7 linked regions of the Homo sapiens genome follow. The protein of the gene in region 6 purifies or fractionates together with the protein of the main gene of each other region. This does not show direct contact. Each region holds a gene or a part of one and is shown on either strand. Other genes may lie near its edges.

Evidence for each region.
Region 1: the proteins of MARK2 (region 6) and CEP85L purify together in Homo sapiens (affinity purification with mass spectrometry; 2 studies listed by BioGRID and IntAct, with this or other methods). This does not show direct contact.
Region 2: the proteins of MARK2 (region 6) and CAPZA1 purify together in Homo sapiens (affinity purification with mass spectrometry; 2 studies listed by BioGRID and IntAct, with this or other methods). This does not show direct contact.
Region 3: the proteins of MARK2 (region 6) and MRPL22 purify together in Homo sapiens (affinity purification with mass spectrometry; one large-scale study listed by BioGRID and IntAct). This does not show direct contact.
Region 4: the proteins of MARK2 (region 6) and MTCL2 purify together in Homo sapiens (affinity purification with mass spectrometry; 2 studies listed by BioGRID and IntAct, with this or other methods). This does not show direct contact.
Region 5: the proteins of MARK2 (region 6) and DTNA purify together in Homo sapiens (affinity purification with mass spectrometry; 2 studies listed by BioGRID and IntAct, with this or other methods). This does not show direct contact.
Region 7: the proteins of MARK2 (region 6) and SNTB2 purify together in Homo sapiens (affinity purification with mass spectrometry; 2 studies listed by BioGRID and IntAct, with this or other methods). This does not show direct contact.

What each region holds. Positions count from the first base shown.
Region 1 is NC_000006.12:118,645,092-118,648,591, forward strand, and holds part of CEP85L (centrosomal protein of 85 kDa-like), read right to left. Parts: intron 2,284-3,500; exon of another isoform or gene 1,816-2,283; intron 1-1,815. UniProt on the Homo sapiens protein: Plays an essential role in neuronal cell migration.
Region 2 is NC_000001.11:112,657,832-112,661,331, reverse strand, and holds part of CAPZA1 (F-actin-capping protein subunit alpha-1), read right to left. Parts: intron 2,311-3,500; coding exon 2,231-2,310; intron 1,632-2,230; coding exon 1,553-1,631; intron 127-1,552; coding exon of another isoform or gene 97-126; exon of another isoform or gene 80-96; intron 1-79. UniProt on the Homo sapiens protein: F-actin-capping proteins bind in a Ca(2+)-independent manner to the fast growing ends of actin filaments (barbed end) thereby blocking the exchange of subunits at these ends.
Region 3 is NC_000005.10:154,951,073-154,954,572, reverse strand, and holds part of MRPL22 (large ribosomal subunit protein uL22m), read right to left. Parts: intron 1-3,500.
Region 4 is NC_000020.11:36,790,539-36,794,038, forward strand, and holds part of MTCL2 (microtubule cross-linking factor 2), read right to left. Parts: coding exon 2,711-3,500; intron 1-2,710. UniProt on the Homo sapiens protein: Microtubule-associated factor that enables integration of the centrosomal and Golgi-associated microtubules on the Golgi membrane, supporting directional migration. Preferentially acts on the perinuclear microtubules accumulated around the Golgi.
Region 5 is NC_000018.10:34,716,798-34,720,297, reverse strand, and holds part of DTNA (dystrobrevin alpha), read right to left. Parts: intron 1-3,500. UniProt on the Homo sapiens protein: May be involved in the formation and stability of synapses as well as being involved in the clustering of nicotinic acetylcholine receptors.
Region 6 is NC_000011.10:63,842,110-63,845,609, reverse strand, and holds part of MARK2 (serine/threonine-protein kinase MARK2), read right to left. Parts: intron 1-3,500. UniProt on the Homo sapiens protein: Serine/threonine-protein kinase. Involved in cell polarity and microtubule dynamics regulation. Phosphorylates CRTC2/TORC2, DCX, HDAC7, KIF13B, MAP2, MAP4 and RAB11FIP2. Phosphorylates the microtubule-associated protein MAPT/TAU.
Region 7 is NC_000016.10:69,242,664-69,246,163, reverse strand, and holds part of SNTB2 (beta-2-syntrophin), read right to left. Parts: intron 563-3,500; coding exon 349-562; intron 1-348. UniProt on the Homo sapiens protein: Adapter protein that binds to and probably organizes the subcellular localization of a variety of membrane proteins. May link various receptors to the actin cytoskeleton and the dystrophin glycoprotein complex.

The sequences.
Region 1 (3,500 bases), on a different chromosome or scaffold from region 6:
ACAGTCCTGCTCACTAAGCTCCAGACTCACTGGAGTTCTTCAAACTTCTCGAACTCATTTCCGCCTTGGAGATTTTTTGTTCCCTCCACCTGAACACTTCTCCCTTCACGTCTGGCTTCTTCTCATCATTCAGGTAACAATGTTACCTCCTCAGAGGCCTCCCTGACCAGCTACTCAAGGAGCTCTGCCCATCCTCTGCCACCTCACCAATCTTCTTTTCCTCTTAGTACTTAACACTAGCTGCATCATCTCACTATCTGTTTACTTACTGATCCTCCCCTCTAAAATGCAAGCCACTACCAGGCAGCATGGTGGTTCATGCCTGTCATCCCAATACTTGGAAGGCCCAGGCAGGAGATCACTTGAGCCTAAAAGTTCAAGACCAGCCTGGGTAACAGTGAGACCTCATCTCTACAGAAAATACAAAAATTAGCCAGCAGTCAGTGCACATGCCTGTATTCCCAGCTGAGCCTGAGAGGCTGAAGTGAGAGGACTGCTTGATCCTGGCAGGTCAAGGCTGCAGAGACCTATGATTGCACAACCGCACTCCAGCCTGACTGACAGAGTGAGACACTGTCTCAAAAACAAAACAAAACAAACAAACAAACAAAACCTAAAAAATGTTTTTAAAAGTAAAATACAAGCCTCCGTAGAGCAAGAACCTTATCTTTCTTGTTCAATGATGTATCCCCAGAGGCTTATACAATGTCTAGCACACCATATTTATTGAAAGAATAATTCACAAACATTTCTAATGCCAAGGTAACAAGCACTATGCTAGGTAACCATTTTTTTTTTAATTAAAGAAAAACAGAAATCAAAATATTGGTATGAAAAGTAATTTGGGGCCAGGCGTGGTGGCTCACGCCTTAATCCCAGCACTTTGGGAGGCCGAGGCTGGCAGATCACGAGGTCAGGAATTCAACACCAGCCTGGCCAATACTGTGAAATCCTGTCTCTACTAAAAATACGAAAATTAGCCAGGCATGGTGGCACACGCCCGTAGTCCCAGCTACTCGGGAGGCTGAGGCAGAAGAATCACTTGAACCCATGAGGCGGAGGTTGCAGTGAGCCGAGATTGCGCCATTGCACTCCAGCCTGGGCAACAGAACAAGATTCTGTCTAAAAAAAAAGAAAAGAAAAGTAATTTGATGTTATTTTTATGTTGATCATGCCCATCCTTAAATGACCCTATACAATAAATTGCTCTTCTTAGAATATTACTTTGCCAGTGTAAAATATGAAAATCCTGATAGTAATAATAATAATGAATAACATGTTATTGCTTAAAAATTGGCTGGGTGCAGTGGCTCATGTCTGTAATCCCAGCACTCTCGGAGGCCAAGGCAGGCGGATCACTTGAGGTCAGGAGTTCAAGACCAACCTGGTCAACATGGTGAAACCCCGACTCTACAAAAATACAAAACATTAGCCAGGTATGGTGGTTTACGCCTCTAATCCCAGATACTCGGGAGGCTGAGGTAGGAGAATCGCTTGAACCCCGGAGACGGAGGTTGCTGTGAGCCGAGATCGCACTCCAGCCTGGGTGACAGAATGAGACTCTGTCTCAAAAAAAATAAAAAATGATATTGCTTAAAAAGTGTCTGATGATCACGTTCTTCACTTTCTTAATGCAAAATTTATGTAATTAGGCTATAACTCAGGAAAATACTATCCAGAAGACTTTATGTCTTCATCATCTTTTCAGAGTATAAAAATACACATTTCATCCAGTCTGAAAAATCATGACTCTCTCAACCCTTTCTGTTCACACACATAAATATTACAACATGACAATAGAGGTTATCAACTCACCATTTATTGCTTGGCCTCAGATTAATTTACCAGCTTCATTCAAGCCAGGAAGTGATCAAATTCCAATTATTAATCAAGTTCATTTCACCAAAGTCATCACTAAAGTTAAGATTCACCCCTTACCCCCCAATACCTATTATGAAAGAACATGTTCAGTTGGGTTTAGGCCAGAGTTATGTTTCATTGTTACCACAGTATTCCTAGAAGTCCATCTAATTCAGAACCACAGCAGAAAACAATATTATTAGTTGTAACCATACCAGTTATTACCACTATCATTATGACATCACTAAACACCTTATGGCAAGCATCAATTAAGAGGTAAATGTAAAGCTCAAAGCAATGAACAAATGACATTTTTTCAGCTCAAGTGTTTCCTGTAACATTTTATTTTCGCACACTATAAAAGTATAATACTCTACCTCAAAATGTTTTAAGAGTTGAATATATGTTTTCGCTTTTGTTTTTTAAAGAGACAGAGCCTCACTCTGTTGCCCGGGCTGGAGTGCAACGACATGATCTCAGCCCACTGCAACCTCAGCCTCCCGGGTTCAGGCAATTCTCCTGCCTTCAGCCTCCTGAGTAGCTGGGATTACAGGCGCACGCCACCACGCCCGGCTAATTTTTGTATTTTTAGTAGAGACTGGGTTTCACCGCGTTGGCCAGGCTGGTTTGTAACTCCTGACCTCAAGTGATCCGCCCACCTCGGCCTCCCAAAGTGCTGGGATTATAGGCATGAGCCACTGCGCCTGGCTTATGTTAGTATTTTAAAAAAATTATTTACGAAAAGGAACATACTTAGCACAACTAGGTATTAGGAAGTACTCAAAGTATCACTTTATCATGCTTGATTTCAAAAGCCTACGGGAAATATGTCTATCCTTCATCCAACTTGAAACCAGTATACATTCTGAACAATAGGGTAATCTCAAATGCAATCAACCAAATGCATAAAAAGATACCAATTGTTCTATTTTAAATTAGCCTTCTAACCACACTTGCCAATACAAAAAAGAGAGGCTTTTATTTGATATTTGTAAGGAAACTTAAGAAAACACTCATTTTAGCTGGGCGCGGTTACTCATGCCTGTAATCCCAGCACTTTGGGAGGCTGAGGCCGGTGGATCACTTGAGGCCAGGAGTTCGCGACCAGCATGGCCAACATGGTGAGACCTTGTCTCTACTAAAAATACAAAAATTAGCTGGGTGTGGTGGCACATGCCGGTAATCCCAGCCATTTGGGAGACTGAGGCACGAGAACCGCTTGGAACCGGGAGGCGGAAGTTGCAGTGATCCAAGATCGCACCACTGCACTCCAGGCTGGGCAACAGAGGGAAACTCTGTCTCAAAAAATAAATAAATAAATACTCATTTTATTTTTGGTTTATAACAGTTACTCCAAAAAGCTGAAAAATGGGAAAAGCCAAATTAAACTGAATCCTAAAGCGAAGGCTAAAAGTTCAGTATTTTTCAAACTACACTTATTATTCCTATTTTTTACTGCCATTTCTTTAAAAAAAAATTTCTTCTGATTTTTAGAAAGTGGTTCTATAAGCCGGGCGCGGTGGCTCACGCCTGTAATCCCAGCACTTTGGGAGGCCGAGGCAGGAGGATCACGAGGTCAGGAGATCGAGACCACCCTGGGTAACACGGTGAAACCCCGTCTCTACTAAAAATACAAAAAA
Region 2 (3,500 bases), on a different chromosome or scaffold from region 6:
TGCCATATTTATCTACCAACTCTTACATATCACTGAGGGCTCCTCCTAGAGCTGTGAACTCAACACCAGCCTGTCTCACCTGAGTTGGGCATGCTCCTATGGCCAGGAGCTACTTGTTGCAGGAAGCTATAGGTATATATAAAAAGAGCAGATTTACTTTTACAGAATTTATTACCTATGCACTTGATTAAATTAGAGCATTAAAAAAGACAACTCTTGGCTGGGCACAGTGGCTCACCTGAGGTCAGGAGTTCAAGACCAGCCTGGCCAACATAGTGAAATCCCACCTCTACTAAAAATACAAAAATTAGCTGGGCGTGGTGGTGTGTGCCTGTAATCCCAGCTACTTGGGAGGCTGAGGCAAGAGAATTGCTTGAACTCAGGAGGCAGAGGTTGCAGTGAGCCAAGATTGCACCACTGCACTCCAGGCTGGGCGACAGAGCGAGACTCCTCCTTCTCCTCCTTCTCAAAAAAAAAAAAAAAAAAAAAAAAAGACAACTCTTGGTAATTGTTGTTAAAGCACAGCTTCACATAATATAATACAGGTACGATTAGGTACTGATCTTCTCGGTTACCTGTACCTATTCTGACCTTACAGTTAGTGAGGCTTAAATATTAAATCACCCTGAGTTTAGAAAGTCAAACCTCTGCTAGGATATTAAACTTCAATCCAGACAGGCATCAAATGAGTTAACAGCTATCTTATTCAGCTGCCTGTCTACCCTGACATCAGCATTAAAAATCTACTTCTGGGCCAGGTGCAGTGGCTCACGCCTGTAATCCCAGCATTTTGGGAGGCCGAGGCGGGTGGATCACCTGAGGTCAGGAGATCGAGACCAGCCTAACCAACATGGAGAAACCCCGCCTGTACTAAAAATAGAAAATTAGCTAGGCGTGATGGCGCATGCCTGTAATCCCAGCTACTCGGGAGGCCGAGGCAGGAGAATCACCTGAACCCAGGAGCCAGAGATTGCGAAGAGCCGAGATCATGCCATTGCACCTCCAGCCTGGGCAATAAGAGCAAAACTCCATCTCAAAAATCAATCAATCAGTCAATCAATCAATCAATCAATCAATCTACTTCTGCTTGGCTATTTATATTCCAAAACACCTGCCATTCTCTCTAGTTATAATTTTTAGGAATTAACCCAGCCTGGGCTGGGAGGTGGAGGTTGCAGTTAGCTGAGATCACGTCACTGCACTCCAGTCTGGGTGATGGAGTGAAACTCTGTCCCAAAAAATAATAATTATTATTATTATTAATTTTAAATCTTTCCTAAAACTGCTGTTTGATAATTCCTAGTTATATCTTATGTTACCATTGAAGGAAAAATAACAATAACCATGTTGCCATACACTCTACATGCTATCCTTTATCAACTCAGAATAGCTCTCTCTGTTTACCACCCCAAGAAGGAGGCTTCTATTTCTATTCACTGCCATCAGTCTCCCTTTGCATCTACACATACTTGGTCCTTATTTAATACCAAAGCAACCTGCACATGTTTTAAAGATGTGAAGTTTTAAGTCTATAAACATGTTGGAATCTCACCTGAATCTTAAGCACGCCAACCACCTGGGCTGTAGGTGGTGTGATGGTGAACTTCCACTCTGATCTCCAACGACCATTCCTATTAAAACACACACACAACATTGCAGAATTAGCAATAAGCACAAGAAAGAGGTGATTTGCCACTGAGGTACAGAAGTTGGGAAAGAGGGGTGCAAAAAAAGAAAAAAAAAAAGAGAGAGAGAGAAACTGTCATTTCCAGTTTGGCAAACCCAAAGCTCTGTCTACTCAAATGTAAGTCTGGATCTAAGTGGCCTGACCATAAGCCTTTTCTAAGTTATTTTGTCTTTCATTTTTCCTTTTTTCCCTTGAAATGGAAAACCATGCCTATTCTGCTCATGGGAGGCTCTTCCAAAATCAGATGAATAGGCTGCTGAGTTACACAATTAACTCAAGTAGCAGTAACCCTAAGCCAAGTAAAACTCAGATTTTCAACAGGGCACTTTACTAATCACTTGTTCTCACTCAAAATAAGAGTAACTTTTAAAGGAAAATATAATTATAAAACCTTAGAACTGTAAGGAATCTAAATCCCTCATTTATAGATGGAAAACTGAAGTCTGTAAGTTAAATAATTATTCCAAGCTAGTTGGATTAAAAACCAAGTCTCAACTGCTGGTTTCTTTCAGATGTAAATAGAAGAGAATATCTACTTCTTACCAGAAGTTTTTAGGCTGAAACTGGTGGCTTTCAATACATGCAATAATAGTCTGTTGCCCATCGATAGTTTTAGCATAAACCTATTGTTGGGAAAAAAAAATAGTTAAAGACTCCAAACACTTTTAATTTAAACAACATGCATTGTACAAAAGCAGAGTGTTAAATCCTTGGGGGAGACAAAGAATCACATAAAATGAGCTTAGAACACAATAGTGCACATGGGATATGAAAACAAAGCAGAACATGTTAGGTTCTACCAGAGACAGTGATACAATGAAAACAGAGGGAAATACTGCTCTTGGTTTGGGGTACAAGGCGGGTGCCATTTAGGCTGGGTCATACAAGACAGATGAGATTCTGATAAGCAGAGACTGAAAATAAAGGCAAGACAGGAAACTAAGGACTTGTTCAGTGAACAAGACTGTCAGGTTTAAAGGGTGTGTGTGAAGTGGACTAATGAAAGACAAAACAGGATGGTAGATTTAGGTCATGTAATAGTAGATGTAAAGTAAGAAGTTTAAGATTTTATTCTATAGGCAATGGAGAGACAGCAAAACATGACTAGAACTAATATTGTGGGAGAATAATCAATACTGGTATTCAAGATAAAACGAAGAAAAGCTGAAGCTTGGTTAGGAGGCCACAGGATTAATCTAGGCAACAAGTCAGAGTTATATTAATGGGAATGGAAAGGAAGAGTTGCACACAGAATGTAGAAGTACAATCAAAGTCTAGCAGTATATTGCAAATGATGGGCAAAGGAAAGAAGGAACTCAAGAGTGACTAAAAAGATGGTGGTGTCATTAACAAACTGGAAATTACAGATGGAGATGTCTAGTTAGTAGTTAGAAACACTAACTCTTCTTTAGTGTGGGAGAGGTGAATGGAAATGCAATCACCAAGGGAAAGTAAGAAAAAAAAAATAGCGCTTTATAGTCCACAAAATATGTTCTTACATGTATTTTCTTTTTCCTCTAATAAATCTGATGAAATACAGTGTTATCTACAGATAAGAAGTTGAAGTTCACAAAGCTTCTTGCCTAAGGTCACTCAGGAAGTGGTAAAGGTAGAATCCAAACCCACTGTTTTTGTGACACCGAAGTCTGTGTTACTTTACCTGCATTAAATGAATTATGAACTTTGGGGGAATGCCTACATTTACAAAGGTAGGGGAAAAAAAGAACTTAGTATAGAGTAAGAATAATTAGGGGGCTGGGTGCAATGGCTCAAGCCTGTAACCCCAGCACTTTGAGAGGCTGTGGCAGGGGGA
Region 3 (3,500 bases), on a different chromosome or scaffold from region 6:
GGCACTTTCTAAAGATAAACGAGACAAAGTCTCAGTACGTATCAAGCAAATAAAGTAACAAAGGTGGAGGTCAGAAGACCTAGTTATATATCTCTGCCATTAACTGACCTATACAGCAAATTAGATAAAGTGAGGATAGGATACGTAAAATAGTTATTCAAATGAAATAAATGTATGTCTAAATTATAAAATGTCTAAATCAATAACTTTTAAATAAATCAATTTATTTTTAAATGCATATAATAATTCAAATGAGGAAAAAGTGTTACCTAATAAAATTTCTGGCCAGGCGCTGTGGCTCATGCCTGTAATCCCAGCACTTTGGGAGGCCGAGGCAGGAAGATTGCTTGAGCCCCGGAGTTTGAGACCAGCCTGGGCAACATGACAAAAACTCGTCTCTACTAAAAATACAAAAATTAGCTGGGAGTGGTGGCACATACCTGTGGTCCCAGCTACTCAGGAGGCTGAGGTGGGAAGATCTCTTAAGCCCAGGAGGTCAAGGCTATAGTGAGCCATGACTGCACAACTGTGCTCTAGCCTGGGCAACAGAGTGAGACCCTGTCTCAAAAAAAAAAAAAAAAGTTTTAGGCCAGGTGCGGTGGCTCACATCTGTAATCCCAACACTTTGGGAGGCCAAGGTGGGTGGAACACTTGATGCCAGGAGTTGGAGACCAGCCCGGACCACACAGAGAAACCCCATCTCTACTAAAAATACAAAATTAGCCGGGCGTGGTGGCACACACCTGTAATCCCAGCTACTTGGGAGGCTGAGGCACAAGAATAGCTTGAGTCCAGGAGGTGGAGGCTGCAGTGAGCCGAGATCATGCTACTGCACTCCAGCCTGGGCAACAGAGCTAGACCCTGTCTCAAAAAAAAAAAAAAAAAAAAAAAGTTCTTACTAGAGCTTTATGAGATTCAGATTCACATTAAGGTATTATTATCAGTATGCTGACTAATCCATAAATTAAAAATACGTCTCATATAGAAACGGTTGTTGGGGGAGTGAAGAAAAAGAGGAAAAATAAGAAATGGTAGCTCAAAGAGTTTTGACCCAGTCTCATTACACTTTTCATTTATTTAACATAGCTTTTTTTCAAAGATACTGCAAAAGGAAACTGAAGCCCAAATTAACAAGGTGTGACTATCATAAAGAAAGCCATTTAATTTCTCTCTGGCTCATTTTCTTTTTTTTTTTTTTTTTTTTTTTTTTCTCCTGAGACGGAGTCTCGCTCTGTCACCCAGGCTGAAGTAGTGCAGTGGTGCGATCTCAGCTCACTGCAACCTCTGCCTCCCAGGTTCAAGTGATTCTCCTGCCTCAGCCTCCCAGTAGCTGGGACTACAGGTGTGCACCACCACACCCGGCTAATTTTTGTATTTTTAGTAGAAATGTGACTTCACCATATTGGCCAGCTGGGCTTGAACTCCTGACCTTGTGATATGCCCACCTCAGCCTCCCAAAGTGCTGGGATTACAGGCATGAACCACCACACCCAGCCTTCACTGTCTTCATATGAAGCCCCATATAAGATAAAATCTACATAAGAATCTATATTCTTTGGAAATTGGTGCTAGCTAAACTACGAAGTTAGTCTTAAAAATATGAGGAGTAGCCTAGAACAACTCTACATTGGTAACATTCATTTTTATTTACTGCTACGGGTTTTGCTCACTATCCCATCCACTGTTATTTATTGACTATATATTCTAATGCAGAAGATCAGAATTAGGTAGAATGGTAGATATTATCTGGCCCTCTTTTCAGCTAGAGATAAAACTAATTTTAATAATGGCTGCAGCTGGCAGATTGGAAATTCTAAGGGACATTGTATATTATAGCGCAGTATTATGAACTATATGGCCAGTGAATAAATTATTTCTGGTAAGTTAGGTATTTATGAAGGGTATCGGTATTCCCAGTCATAACAGGTACAACTGATGTACCAATATTAAATTACTAAATACTATTTAAAGTCAGAAAATGTTCATATTTCCCAGATGTCATAATTTGTCCCCCAAAGGATTACTGAAACAAAATCTGTGCAAAATAGAGAAATTAAGGTTTTCCAAAGTACCTATATCAAATCAAATTAAATGTCTTCCCACAGGCACTTGTATAAGAAGGATAAATGATACAAAAAAGTTAATCAAAATAGTTTCATTAAATATAACACACAACAAATTACTGTATTGATAGTGTTCATCATTTGCTAGAGTTAAGCAGATGACATACTACTAACTATTTGAATTTTGCCACTTGGGATATATCCTAAAGTACATTTTTTTAGTATCTAAAGATACTAAACAAAACAAACACATAACAAAATTGTGCTGTTATAGATTCTGGACTTGACAAATACTGTTGTAATTTATTTCCAATTAATACCTGATTTCAGGCCGGGCACGATGGCTCACGCCTGTAATCCCAGCACTTTGGGAGGCCGAGGCAGGCGGATCATGAGGTCAGGAGATCGAGACCATCCTGGCTAACACGATGAAACCCCGTCTCTACTAAAAATACAAAAAATTAGCCGGGATGGTGGCAGGCGCCTGTAGTCCCAGCTAGTCGGGAGGCTGAGACAGGAGAATGGCGTGAACCCGGGAGGCAGAGTTTGCAGTAAGCCAAGATTGCACCACTGCACTCCAGCCTGGGCGACAGAGGGAGACTCCATCTCAAAAAAAAAAAAAAAAAATACGTGATTTCAAAGAGCTCAGGTAAGAAGCAAAAAAAGTTCATTAGTTACAGAAAAATTTTTATTTATGATATTTGTGCAATTGTGTAACGTTTCATTTAGTCAATTTTGGTTAATTACAAAATGGAGACCAGCCTGGCCAACATGGTGAAACCCCATCTCTACTAAAAATACAAAAATTAGCTGGTCATCGTGGCGGGCACCTGTAATCCCAGCTACTCCGGAGGCTCAGGCAGAAGAATCCCTTGAACCCGGGAGGCGAAGGCTGCAGTGAGTCAAGATCGTGCCATTGCACTCCAGCTGGGTGACAGAGCAAGACTCTGTCTCAAAAATAATAATAATAATAAAATAAAATAAACAAAATGGAGTCAATACTTAATAGCCTATACTGACAAATCTTTCAAGTTGTGATGTCATGACAAAATATGAAAGTTGAAAAGTTATTTGTTTATTCTGTGCAGATAACGATAAGATAAATCTCCAGTAGGAACCCAATGATTAAGTTCAAACTTTAGGTTCAAATTGCAAAACAAACAAACAAACAAACAAACAAAAAACAGTGTGTCTATATTCAAATATATAACACTGGAAAATCATATACATAATTTAAACATTGGCCAATAGTTTAAGTCATTCTTGCCAACTCCACATGCTCCATCATTAAGAGCTCATCAGCAAGCCTCTCAGAGTCAAAAATCAGTATGTCTTAAACTATTAGCTTAGTTTTAGAGTTAAGGTCCCTATCCAGGAGGTTAAGTAAAGACAAATAAGTAAAGAATAACAATCTTTTTCAACTATTGAAGAGATAAA
Region 4 (3,500 bases), on a different chromosome or scaffold from region 6:
ATTCTCCTGCCTCAGCCTCCCGAGTAGCTGGGACTATAGGCGCATGCTGCCACGCCTGGCTAATTTTTTGTATTTTTTAGTAGAGATGGGGTTTCACTGTGTTGCCCAGGCTGGTCTTAAATTCCTGAGCTCAGGCAATCCACCTGCCTCGGCCTCCCAAAGTGCTAGGATTACAGGCGTAAGCCACCATGCCTGGCCTCTTTTTTTTTTTTTTTAATGTAGAGATGAGCTCTCACCATGTTGCTCAGACTGGTCTTGAACTCCTAGCTCAAGTGATCTGCCCACCTCAGTCTCCCAAAGTGCTGGGATTAGAGACATGAGCCATTGCACCTGGCCAAAAAAGGAATAAATATTTAAAAGATGTTTTTAAATGTCAGCCAGCTGAGTGAGAGTATAGAAAAGTAACGCACTCGCCACACACTGCTGGAAGCTGTAGATATGGCACACTTTTGAAAAACAATTTGGCAGTATTTATCAAATAACTTTAAAACATTTATATTTTTTTTTTTGTGTGGAGATGGAGTCTCACTCTGTCACCCAGGCTGGAGTGCAGTGGTACCATCTCAGCTCACTGCAGCCTCCGCCTCCTGGGTTCACGCGATTCTCCTGCCTCAGCCTCCTGAGTAGCTAGGACTACAGGTGACCACCACTATGCCCGGCTAATTTTTGTATTTTTAGTACAGACAGGGTTTCACCATATTGGCCAGGCTGATCTCAAACTCCTGACCTTGTGATCCACCCGCCTCGGCCTCCCAAAGTGCTGGGATTACAGGCATGAGCCACCGCGCCCGGCCACATTTATATTCTATTATCCTTTAATCTCATTTCTGCAACTTATACCTAAGGAAATAGTCTGAAATGTAAAAAAATGATTTTGCACCAAGATGTTCACCACAGCATTATTTGCAGTAGGGACAAACTAGAAACCACCTAAACGTACAATAATAGAAAAGTAGAATGTTTGAGTCTATCACAGCCCATTCCACACACAGCCCTTCTCATGTCTCTGTGCCCCACAGCAGACCACATGGTACCACTCCCAGCCATAGACTGGACCAAGGGGTACACTCGCCTCTAGCTGCACCAATCAGAGTTTCCTTCTTTCAGAAATGTGGAATTGGGAGACAGGGATTTGTGTCAGTCTCTCCTAGGGGCTTGAACTGGAAGATGTTGTAAAGTCAGAGCTGGGACAGCCCACCCAGTCCTTGTGCAAATGCAACAGAGAGAGAAACAGAGAAAAAGGAGGAATATGATATCAGAGAGGGTGAAGCTTAAAGAGAGGAGAGGAAGACAGGGAGAAGCTGCTGAGGTTGTCAGGTTCCTACTCTTGGGTTTTATAAAACATGCCATCCTTCAAATACATTTCCTTCCCTTTCTGCAAAGTTAACTTATGCACATTCTAACACATTCAAATAATGCTCACTAACATTCAAATAAGGTTTACTAATTAACTTATAAGAAACTGATAGCAGGAGTGGGGTGTGAAAGATTCTCAGAGGAAATGTGAGCACTTAGGTGTGAAGTCTTGATGGGGTGGAGAAGTGGTATGCCCGCTAATGTTTAACAATTAGTTTTCCAGGAGTGATAGGAGGAGCCCCGATTTGTAGTGTTTACCAATTTTTATGCTGTAAATCCTCCCACTGTGGCCAATCTCAAGGTACCAAGGTGATGTTAAACACAGAGATGTGGCCAGGCGCGGTGGCTCACGCCTGTAATCCTAACACTTTGGGAGGCCAAGGTGGGCGGATCACTTGAGGTCGGGAGTTCGAGACCAGCCTGGCCAACATGGTGAAACCCCGTCTCTACTAAAAAATACAAAAATTAGCCGGGCATGGTGGCAGGTGCCTTAATCCCAGCTACTTGGGAGGCAGAGACAGAATTGTTTGAACCCAGGAGGCGGAGGTTACAGTGAGCCGAGATTGAGTCATTGCACTCAAGCCTGGGGGACAAGAACGAGACTTCTCTCAAAACAAAAACAAAAACAATAAAAAAAAAAAAACCCACAGAGATGCTGACAATTGGCTCCTGCAAGCCAAACAAGCTGGCTCTAGCACACCACTGGGTGGCAGGAGAGCAGTAAGGCCCCTTCCCTGGAGGGGATGCTGGCAGTCTCTGGTGGGTGGAGCAAAAGCTGCTAGTTAAGCCATGCTCACTAGTCTCTTGGAATTCAGACCATGTGACCATCAGGTCTGTGTTGTTCCAGGTCTGGGACCTTCCAACTCTATCCTAGACCAGCATAAGAACTTCCTGGAACACATGGCCATATCCCTGAATTTTTATTTTATATATATAGATATATAGATAGATAGATAGATAGATAGACAGACAGACAGACAGACAGACAGACAGACAGACAGACAGATAGATAATTTTTTTTTTTTGGTGAGACGGAGTCTTAGTCTGTCACCCAGGCTGGAGTGCAATAGCACAATTTCAGCTCACTGCAACTTCCGCCTACTGGGTTCAAGTGATTCTCCTACCTCAGCCTCCAGAGCAGCTGGGACAACAGGTGCATGCCACCACGCCTGGCCAATTTTTGTATTTTTAGTAGAGATGGGGTTTCACCATGTTGGCCAGACTGGTCTTGAACTCCTGATCTCAGGCGATCCACCCACCTCGGCCCATATCTCTGAACTTAAAAACCAAAAGAGCTTGGACCTTATATACTAACTCCACCTACTAAGAGAAAGGACAGATCCCACCCACCTACCTCATTGGGAAGGACCACGGCTCCATCTCCGTCCCGGAGGACACCATCCTTCCCCACCTGGGGGAGCATGGTGAGTCTGACCTCCTCACTGCTGCCCAACTTGGCTGCCTTCTTGTTCAGGATCCTGGCCACACCCTCTGGCTGATGGTAGCTGGCTGGGGAGAGGGGCTCTGGCTTCTTGGTGCCCTCCTCTCCTGCTGATGAGGTGGGGCTCGGTGCCCGGCCACACACATTACGGAAGAATTCCTGCACAATGCCGTACTTGGGAGGCTCGGGCTTGGCCCGCGTCTCAGACATGCCTAGTTTCCAGACAGACTCCGTGCTCCCTGAGTGCTCCACCACACTGAAGAGGCTGGAGAGTCCATCGTTGATGTTTCTCAATACAGGGCTGTCCCGCGTGGTGGTGGAGCGGGCCCAGGCCGAGCCGTTCTGCTTGCCCTGGTGCAGGTTCCACAGGCTGCGGTCCTTGCTGCTGTCCAGCTTGGACACAGACCGCCTCTGGAGCTTTGGTGAGCCATACTTGGGGGAGCAGCAGGGCCGCTCGATGCGCGAATGGACCTTGTCCAGGGAGGAGGAGATCTGCTTGCTGCGCACAGACACGAGCGAAGAGCTGCGGGGTGACCAGGCCTTGCCATGGAGGCTGCTGCGGGGTGGGTCGGTCTGCAGGCCCACGCTGACCGTGCGGATGGTCTGTGTGCCCACACTGGCCAGGCCCACCGTCTGGCTGGATGTGCTCTTCACTTTCCTCTCCAGTGAGCCGGAGCGCATGGCCTGGCGCACACAGTTGGTG
Region 5 (3,500 bases), on a different chromosome or scaffold from region 6:
TACAATTCTTTTTGTACAGAGGATGACAATCAACCCACCCCTACCAGCCCACATTATAGGGAAAGGAGATAAGAACCAAACTTTGAACCTAACTTTGTTCTAGAGTCTGGTTGGGTTCTGCCTGGGTCCACCTGCTTGACTTTGACTTTGTGACCCTTCCACCCCCTCATGACTATGCCTTGGCCAGCCTCTGGCCTGATTCCCTTTTCTGGCTGCCAACCTCGCACTAGCTCCCTTAGGTTATAAAAATATTAGCGCATTTAATTCCTAGTAAGACGGCAATGAACAAATTGACATATTATTCAAATACCAAGCTTGGAAGGGAATTCCATTTGCTCTTATTAGTACCATTAGCAGCAGTCATTCTCTGTCAGAAGGTCAGAGCCATGTAGATGAGTATATAGAACATTTCAATGAGGCCCATTCTTTGAGGTAAAAACTTCAACTGTGCCAGTCAAACTGATTGACAGTATTTGGGTAGAAGAAGAGTTTCTCCAATTTATAAGGGCATGCTCCTAAACAAAGCTTTCTTTACACTTTACATAAGAAAAATCCAGAGCTGCCCTAAAAATCTTGTTACTATTTCTGAGCAGTGTCGGTGTAGAATGACATAAATACCGGAAAGTCTTCTAAATCTTATTACATAATGATAATTGCTAACATTTTTGCAGGTTTACTATATGTCAGGCACTTTGTGAGCACGTTACAAGTATCATCTCTGTACATATTATAAAATTAACATAGATTAAGAGTAGGCAGGATGGCGTAGTAGTTGAGCTGATTAAATAGAGCTCTCTCTGATTAACTGTATGCTGTTTGGGGGATTACTTAACCTCTCGGGCCTTAATTTCTTCATCTGTAAAATAAAGATGGTAAAAGTACCCTGCTCATAGGGTTGTTGTGAGGATTGATGGAGAGATAATAACTACTTATTTTTTTATTTTTTTATTTTTTGAGATGAAGTCTCACTCTGTCACCCAGGCTAGAATGCAGTGGTGCGATCTGGGGTCACTGCAACCTTCACCTCCCTGGTTCAAGTGATTCTCCTGCCTCAGCCTCCTGAGTAGCTGGGACTACAGTAGACCCACACCACCATGCCTGGCTAGTTTTTGTTTTGTTTTTGTATTTTTAGTAGAGACGGGGTTTCGCCATGTTGGTGCCAGACTGGTCTTGAACTCCTGACCTCAGGTGATCCACCCACCTTAGCCTCCCAAAGTACTGGGATTACAGACGTGAGCCACTGCATCCCACCACTACTTACATTTCTTCAGTGATTTCCATGTTCTATGACTGTTCTCCAAAAAAAAAGGGTTAATTGCCTTAAATAGGTTAAACAAAAAGTACTTAGAACAGTATCTGGCACTTAGAAAGTCTTCTATTTTCTTAAATCCGAGAACTCATGGAACTCTCACATGATGTGCTCCTCTCTGTCCTGCTGTATGTTCAGGTTTCCTAGTATCAAGCCACACATGGTCAGCACATTGCCCAAATGGCTGCTATTCTTTCCTCACTCACTCTGGCTTGTAGTTACTGCCAAAGTCCTCCTTACAGTCAGACTAATGCCCATACTCTTCAGTAATACCTTTCTCCTTTCATTTCTTTATGACCAAGACCATACTCCACCTCCTCCACCATTTTTCTGCATTTTCCACCCTTCTTTTTTTGACTGCAGTGATCATAAGGCTTTGGAAGAAATAAAACCTAACGTCTTATTAGAAAACAGTGGGGGCTTTGATGCTGGAATAACAGCTTCTACTGTCTTCCCACCTATAAATGAACCTGGATATACTGCCAAGAGAAAAAAGTCCATCAAAATGGGGTAAAGACTGGAGAAGAATAATGTACCCAAATCATAAATTCAACAGACGATTGCTTTTTTGACCTTTCTAAACGATGCCTAATTATATACTTTTAAAATTCTTGTATTTTTGGAAGAAATAAAAACACTATTTGTCAAAATCAAAGAATGTTAAGATTTTAACGAAAGAGGAAGTCTCATAAATATTAAGTTTCCACCTCAGTTACATTACATCCCCAAACAAAATTGTCATGTGTCATACATTTCAACTACATACATGATGTAGTTGCGCCTACTTCCAAGAGGATGATTTATGTAAGTTGGTCCTGTTTGAAAAACTTGCATATTGTAAGATACGCTCAGTTTCCTTGGCCACAAAAATCCTGCTCCAGCATTGTATGCAGTAATCGACAATTTTCAAGGGGGCTTAAAAGATAAATCAGTTGTTCTCTACCTGACTTATTGTAAAGAGAAGCAACAGACAAAACACCTCTCAAATCTACTCTTTTTAAATTCTACTTTCATCCCCTTAGCTCATAACCTCCCTCATACTTGTTCTGGATTGTAACATTAACTTCTGGACTCATTTCTGTCTACACACTAGTCTATTTTCTGTGCTGCTGCCATTATTACATTTCCAGACATTTCTGATTCTCATCTCTCCCTGGTTTTCCCATACTGTTCTGTTTCTCAAGATCCTCCTTTCCCCAGCTTCCTATTGAACACTGGCCATTTCTTTAAGGTTTATCCCAGTGCTTCCTTCTCCACACAGCATTTTCTCTCCCCTCCTCTGTAATATCTGCTCTGCACCATTTACTCCTTAGGATACTCCAAGGATTTCCTGAATCAAGGAACTCTGCACTACTACTATCTTTTCAATGTCAGTGTCCAACACAAATATATTCAATATAAGGTTTTTTAAAAAAAATAAATGAGAAAATGAATGAGCATTAAAATTCTTAAGCAAACAAAACTACAGACTACTTGAGACCAACACTTCTCTGGAAAATCTTGGACTTGCAGTCACTAGAATCAAAGGATTTCATTGATCTGTATTTCTGTAGATAAAAGGGAAATTGCACAAAGAATACTCACCTTCTTGTCCTATCTATATCATCCGAATTTAGCAGAGGTGCTTGAAATTAACCTCCGATATTAAATAAAAGACCCTATTTGTTGTGCTTAATTCTAGAGTGTCACTGTCTATTAAGATAGCACTAGACACACGTGGCTATTTCAATTACTTAGCATTAAATAAGATTTGAAATCTGTTTCATCAGTCGCACTAGCTACCTTTCAAGTGTTTAATAGCCACATGTGGCTAGTAGTTACTATATTGGACTAAGAAGATATAGAGCATTTCCAGCATCACAGAATTTTGAACAGATTGCTCTGGAGCTCTGCCTCTCCACCACACCTAAATGTAGGTGTGGCCCAGTTATTCAAGCCCAGTTATCCTCTGCCCATCCTTATATGAGCAGAAATTTCTTTAGAATAAATTTCAAAAACTAATAATTGGAATGTATACCCTATTTAAAATATTTTGTTATTTTCTCTCACAGTCAAGGCATTCCAGATTTTACCATTTGGTATTGAATTTCAGTGAAATTATAAAAATCTACCCTTCCCACTTGATATGAGACTTCTTATTTGCAAATCAGCGGTGAAGACAAACACATATACATGGGTAAAGGGATTCACA
Region 6 (3,500 bases):
AGAGGGTGACTTCCTCCCCCACAGGTTTGTAAAGGCTTACTCTTCCCTTTGCAGAGACAGAAGGGAGAAAATGCATAGACAACACTTCAGTGACTCACTCATGTTTGATGAAAGCTGGGAGGAGGCCTGGAGAATCCAAGCTACAAGCACAAAACGTACAAATACTGGAATCTCCCATCAAGAGAAGGAAATTTAGCCACCTATCTGGTTTGTCATTTTGCTGAACTTCCACTGAAGGAGGAAGGGCCAGCTTTAAACTCCACCCACCCTTTCCACATCCTTCTCAATTTTTGCTTTGATGGGAAAGTGGGGAAACTGGCGGCCCCACCATGGCTAAAAGAGAATCAAATCCTTTCTATACTTCCTCTCAAAGCAGAGGCCTAGTAGCTCCAGTCCACAGCTTAACCAAGCAGAGGGAATAGGGGCTTGTCCTGGTTACTGTAGGAAAGCCTCATCAGGCAGTCTCAGGGAAGGAAGATGACCACCCTCCTCACCCTTTCCATCTGCTGAGGTTACTTCATTCCAATCCATTAATGGGCTTCAAAGTGCTGCTGGGGGGAGTCCATTTAGCAGAGAAGCTATCACGGGGCCAAAGGTGGCGCCCACCCCCTACCCCATTTGTCGATAATGGGCCACAAAGTCTGAGGCTTGGCTGCACTCTAGACATAAAATATTCATTCAAGTCGACATAATACATAAGTAGGAACCTCATGGAAGCTCCTGGGAGAAGAGAAATGCCAGCCAGGTGGCTAAGTGCTCAATGGGAAAGAGTTCATGAAGGCCTGGGTTAGTCCTGATCAAATGCCCACTGAGAATTGGGTTGTTCTGTCCAAAGGGGAAACAATCTAGTCTGAGAAGTTCTGACTCCCAAAAGCTCGAACCCTGCAAACCTCTTAGGCAAGCAAAGTCTCAATCTTTTCCTACCTCATAGGCACCAACTCTGCTTAGGACATTTATGCTGAGAAAAATCTCCAGCCCAAACTTTGGTTGGTCTGAAAGATTAAGTTATCCTTGTGCAAACTTTATTTTAATCTGCAGCAGGCCGAGTTTCAACAACTGTCTTATATCCATCTGTTTAGCTACTTTCCGAAGTCCATAAATTGGAGAAAAGTAATTTTTTTTTTCTGAGATAGTGTCTTGCTCTGTCACCCAGGCTGAAGTGCAGTGGCACAAACACAGCTCAATGCAGTCTCGACCTCCCCAGCTCAAGCCATCCTCCTGCCTCAGCCTTCTGTGTAGCTGCAACCACAGGCATGTGCCACCATGCCCAGCTAAATTTAAAAAAATTTTTTTGTAGAGATGGAGTCTCACTTTATTGATCAGGCTGGTCTTGAACTCCTGGCCTCAAGCAATCCTCCTGCCTTGGCTTCCCAAAGTGCTAGGACTACAGGCATGAGCCATGGTGCCTGACCAGAGAGAAATTATTCTAATTTACTAGGTACAGTTACTTTTCAGATTCAAAGGTTACGAACTCCAAGGACTCCCAAAGCCCTTGCTCTAACAACACTTCCTTCCTGATCTCTAGGGCCAAGCCGAAAGTGACACTATTTGGTCTGACATTCACCCACATTCCTGACCAGAAGGCAGCACCACCAAGGACCCCCTGGCCAGAATCAAAGGACAGAGTGAGAATTAGCACCAGGGCACACTGCTGCACAGCTCAGAGTGTGGACTGAGATGCTAGCTAGCCGATCCAATCTACCTAAGTTACACCAAAAGCAAAAAAAAAATATTTATCCAGCAGATCACCTGAGGTCAGGAGATCGAGACCAGCTTGGCCAATATGGCAAAACCCCGTCTCTACTAAAAATACAAAAATTAGCCAGCATGGTGGTGGGCGCCTGTAGTCCCAGCTACTCCCAGGAGGCTGAGGCAGGAGAATCGCTTGACCCGGGAGGCGGAGGTTGCAGTGAGCCGAGATCGCATCGCTACACTCCAGCCTGGGCGACAGAGCAAGACTCTGTGTCAAAAAAAAAAAGAGTTTTATATATATATATATTTTTATCCAGAATCAACAATGGGGGTCCAGTGAGAGTGTTTGGAGTAGTTCAGCTGTTCCTTATAGGATCTTGTAACTTTGTTTTCTTCACCAGTACTTCTAAACTCCCCTTCCTAGAACTGAGAGAATAAACAATGCCGCTCACTGCCTAGAAGCCTGACAGCAGCCCCCTCCCTTCCCACTGCAGCAGAAGTGGGGCAAGTTTTCTCTCAATCCCTCTCTCATAGTTTCTGAGGCCCAGAGGTGGGGCAGGTCCCAGATGGAGTAGCCTCTCCCCCAGGTGTTATGGAAAACTCTAGCAGGTGAACTCTGGAAGCTGGACCTTTCTCCAGGCTTGCCTGTGACTGCTGCTGCTGGCTGGAAGACAAACAGTCATCTTGCTGATTGCTTTCACAACTGCCAAGCTTCAGGCCAGCAGAGTCATTTGGAAAAGAAGTGAACAAAAAGCTCAGCTCACAAACTAAGAATCCCCCAAGCTACGAGCCCCAGATTAGAACCCTCCTTCTGCAAAAGCAGGAAGTCTATGGCTGTGAAAAAGCACATCTGGAATCAGGTGTCACAAAAACCATCTTAAAGACAGGGCTTAACTTTTTTTTTTTTTTAATCTCCTACTTTCACTGTTATAAGCGAAGTGGACAGCACACAGGCAATCTCCCTGTAACGCAAGGTTTATTTTTATGCTTCAACATTTTCAGTGTCTGTGTGTTTCAGAGTGATTAAAGGGCTCCTGGAAACAGGTTCTCATCAGCCACATTTTTAAAGAAGAGGGAGAGGAAGAGCAAGAAAAGAGACTGGAGACAACCAGTGGTGTTTGTTTACCTATTTTCTGGTAAAACCAGTTTTAAATTTAAATAAGGTGACAGAGGACCTTTAGGGGAGGAAATCAGCCCAACTAAATCCCCTTTTTAAAAAAAATAACATTAAGACTATAGTAATGACCAAGCTTCCATGACTACTTTATCTAAAATCACAACAGGACCAAGAAGAGGTTTCTTTCACTTGGTGGCATGATCTATTCTCGGAGGCCAGTGTTTGATATACCTGGCCTTGTGACCTGAGGAGCTGCTGCTTGTCTTTTTTCCCGTTTTAAAGAATACAGGAATCAGGCCCGGCGCAGTGGCTCACACCTGTAATCCCAGCACTTTGGGAGGCCGGATCACGAGGACAGGAGACTGAGACCATCCTGGACAACATGGTGAAACGCTGTCTCTACTAAAATCCAAAAAATTAGCCGGGCGTGGCGGTGTGTGCCTGTAGTCCCAGCTACTCAGGAGGCTGAGGCAGGGGAATCGCTTGAACCCAGGAGGCGGAGATTGCAGTGAGCCAAGATTGTGCCACTGCACTCCAGCCTGGCGACAGAACGAGACTCTATCTCAAAAAAAAAAAAAAAAAAGAATACAGGAATCTGTCTGGAATAGGTGCATCCAAGGTTTTCCAAAGTCCCTGCTTTTACTGGAATGAGACTTAATATTAAATCGATACAGTGACTGGCTACCCTGAG
Region 7 (3,500 bases), on a different chromosome or scaffold from region 6:
TTCAATTATAAAGTAATACATATTCATAGTGAAAAAAGTAATAACAACATTACAGAAAGACATAAAAGGAAGAAAAGATGCCCCCTCTTTCTTTCACCCCTTTAGTCTTATTTGACACCCTAGAGGTAAAGCCATTAACAGTTTCTTGTGTGTCTGTTCAAAATTTTTTCTACACATATACATGTATATATGTAGAATAACTTAAAATGTGGAACCCCAAAAATGCATCTCTCACCTCAGACAGATGTTTTCCTCTGTATAACTGAGTTAACAGAGTCATATAATACTGCAACATGTCCTTAAGTTTGTAAAGCTGTAGGTATGATGTTCTTGTTAGGTACACCTCACCTGTTTTCCAGATCCGGCATGCTTAGGTTTCTAGCAGCAAAGCACATTTTGAGAGGGATGATCTTCCTGTCCTTGGTGCTGTTCTGGTGTTTTGGCGAACCAGAGTCCTCACTGCCACTAAAGCTTGGTGACTGGGGGGCTGCACCTTCCCACGGCAGATCTGATACTAATGATGGCTTCTTGATATATGGTGTTACTTCTCGGATGAACTTGACTATGAACAAAAAAATCAAAGAAGAAGGTTAGTAATTTTGCTTCCTATAATAAATGATAACTAAAGTATTCACATACATGCTATATCTATAACAAAGTGGAGGAAAGAGCTGGGCGCGGTGGCTCACTCCTGTAATCCCAGCACTTTGGGAGGCCGAGGCGGGTGGATCACTTGAGGTCAGGAGTTCAAGGCCAGCCTGGTCAACGTAGTGAAACCCCATCTCTACCAAAAATACAAAAAATTAGGTGAGCGTGGTGGCATGCGCCTGTAGTCCCAACTACTCAGGAAGCTGAGGCAGGAGAATTGCTTGAACCCGGGAGGCGGTGGCTGCAGTGAGATTGTGCCACTGCACTCCAGCCTGGGCGACAGAGCAAGACTCTGCCTCAAAAACAAACAAACAAACAAACAAACAAAAAATGGGGGAAAAAAGTAAGTTAAAGAGCCATGAATCCCCTGGAGATAGATTCTAAGACAGACCCATCTAGGCTTTAGATGATTCAACCTTTAGAAACTTCTCCATACTTCTACCCACTGGTTCCCTGTCTTCTCAAGCCATATAGAACAAACTTAATCTCTCTTCTACATGAGAACTCTGTAATTATCTGAAGACAGATTTTTCTCTTCTCTCTCCTCCCCATACTAAGCTAAGTATTTCTATTTCCATTCAACTCAATCAACTTTTATTAGCTACCTACCAAGTGTTGGGAATTAGGCTAGCCAGTAAAGACACAAGGGCAAATGAGCCATGGATTCTATCCCTCAAGGAATGCCCAGCCTTGCAGGGGAGACAGCTATGTAAACAGGCCATTACAGTTCTTAAAATCAAGTGCAAAAATAAAGTATATTCAAGATAAGGTATGATCTAATAAGCACAAAGCCAACTCAACTGATCCCCCTTGCTTGTTCAAAATACTCTATTTCCATTAATGTGGCCCCAAATGAAAATCAAGCTTTTAGTAGATAGGAAGCTTTTTTAAGTTCAAATTTAAAACTCATAAAATACTTGTTTTACTTCAGTCATGACTACAATTACTGTCACTCGAGGCATGGTGTTCTTGTTTCAAAAACTAGACAAACTGGCTGGGCACAGTGGTACACACAGTTTCTCCTGTGAATAGGTAATACATGCACATAAAACAAAACTCAAGAGGTATAAAAGGTTTTATAATAAAAGTCCAGATTTCTAGCTACCCTGTCTCCATTCCTAGAGGCAACCATTCAAAGAGATGCCTGGTATGCTAAGCATGTATGAAAATAAACACATACACATGCGTGTATATCTGATCATACATATGGTGGTACATTATGCTTACCGTGCTGCACCTTAGTTTTTTTATTTAATAAGGTTGATAGTCTTTTATAGGCCTAATAGTTGATAGCTCATTCTACAGCATGATGTGGTCATAGAGATGCCTTTGGAATCAAGAAGACCTTGTTCAAATCCTAACTGTGCTTGCTATTCAAAGCTATGTGACCGCACTTAACTGTTCTGAGGTCCTCATCTACAAAATGGGAGTAACACTAAGCAAATAAAAATTTCAGGCACATACTAAACATTCAATAAATACAGTAGGTACCTTTCTTTTTCCTTCCCTAAATTAGAAAGTTAGAGAAGAGTTAAAAAATTTTAATGGTAATCAGTAGAAGAGTTAAAGTTATTTTCTTATACGTTATTAAAAAAGATTTACTGAAATTAAGTATAATAATAAAAAATATAACAATTCCAATGCTAGAATTTAGATGTAGTATATCTCTGTGCTTTTTGTGCATAGTTATAATACACGTGCTTCTGGGTAGCTGCCTCAGGTCACCAAGGAGATTTTTTTACCCTAGAAAAATCAGCAGGAGTGCAGTCAGTATAACCCTTGAGCAGCTGACTCAAGCATTTCAATACATACTTCAGCTTTATGCTTTGAAGGACTTTGGCAGAAATTCCTAAGGTTTCCAGTTACTGCAAATGGCAGAGGCATGCTTTTTGAACATTTAAGGCAGTACACTATTGGGCTACCAACTGGAGGAAATTAAAGACATTCTAAATGAATTCTTGAATAATATAGTGGTTAGAAAAGAACCCTTAACGATCTACTCAGTTCATTCAATCACACAGTAGCATCACTGAACTGATTACTACACACATCCTAAAACAAAAACAGACATACACATACAATTTATGTATTGCCTTATTAAAAGAGCAATGAATTTTATCTGAGTTGATGGCAATGCAGTCCATACCCCCATCTAATTAGCCATCCAGAATGGCTGAAGAGCTGTGGATGGACATCTGTTTCTATGTTTGGGAATGGCAAAAAGTTAACAGTCTTCTGTTTCAGTCCTATGTTAAGGCCTTAACCTGGACACGTGGCTGGATAAGCAGAGCCTTTACACCCCCACATGGAGCTTTCAGTTCAACTCAGAATCCACAACATATTTCAGAATCATTTCATTTTTCCTGATAGTTGAAGATAATCCTCAAAATAATTTAATTAAACACTGATGTTTACAAACTGTTTTGAGTGTTCAGATGCTGAAGCTAATTTTCTTTCTTCCATTCATGTATCCCTTTTTTTTTTTTTTTTTTTTTAAGATGCAGTCTCACTCTGTCGCCCAGGCTGGAGTGCAGTGGCACAATCTCAGCTCACTGCAAACTCTGCCTCCTGGGTTCACGCCATTCTCCTGCCTTAGCCTCCCCAGTAACTGGGACTACAGGCGCCCGCCACCACGCCCGGCTAATTTTTTGTATTTTTAGTAGAGACGGGGTTTCACCGTGCTAGCCAGGATGGTCTCGATCTCCAGACCTCGTGATCCACCCGCCTTGGCCTCCCAAAGTGCTGGGATAACAGGCTTGAGCCACTATGCCCGGCCTCACGTATCCCTTTTACTGAACGTGAAGGTGGGCTTCCTCCCACCCCAAAAGCATTACTGTGATCCCTTCTCTTCT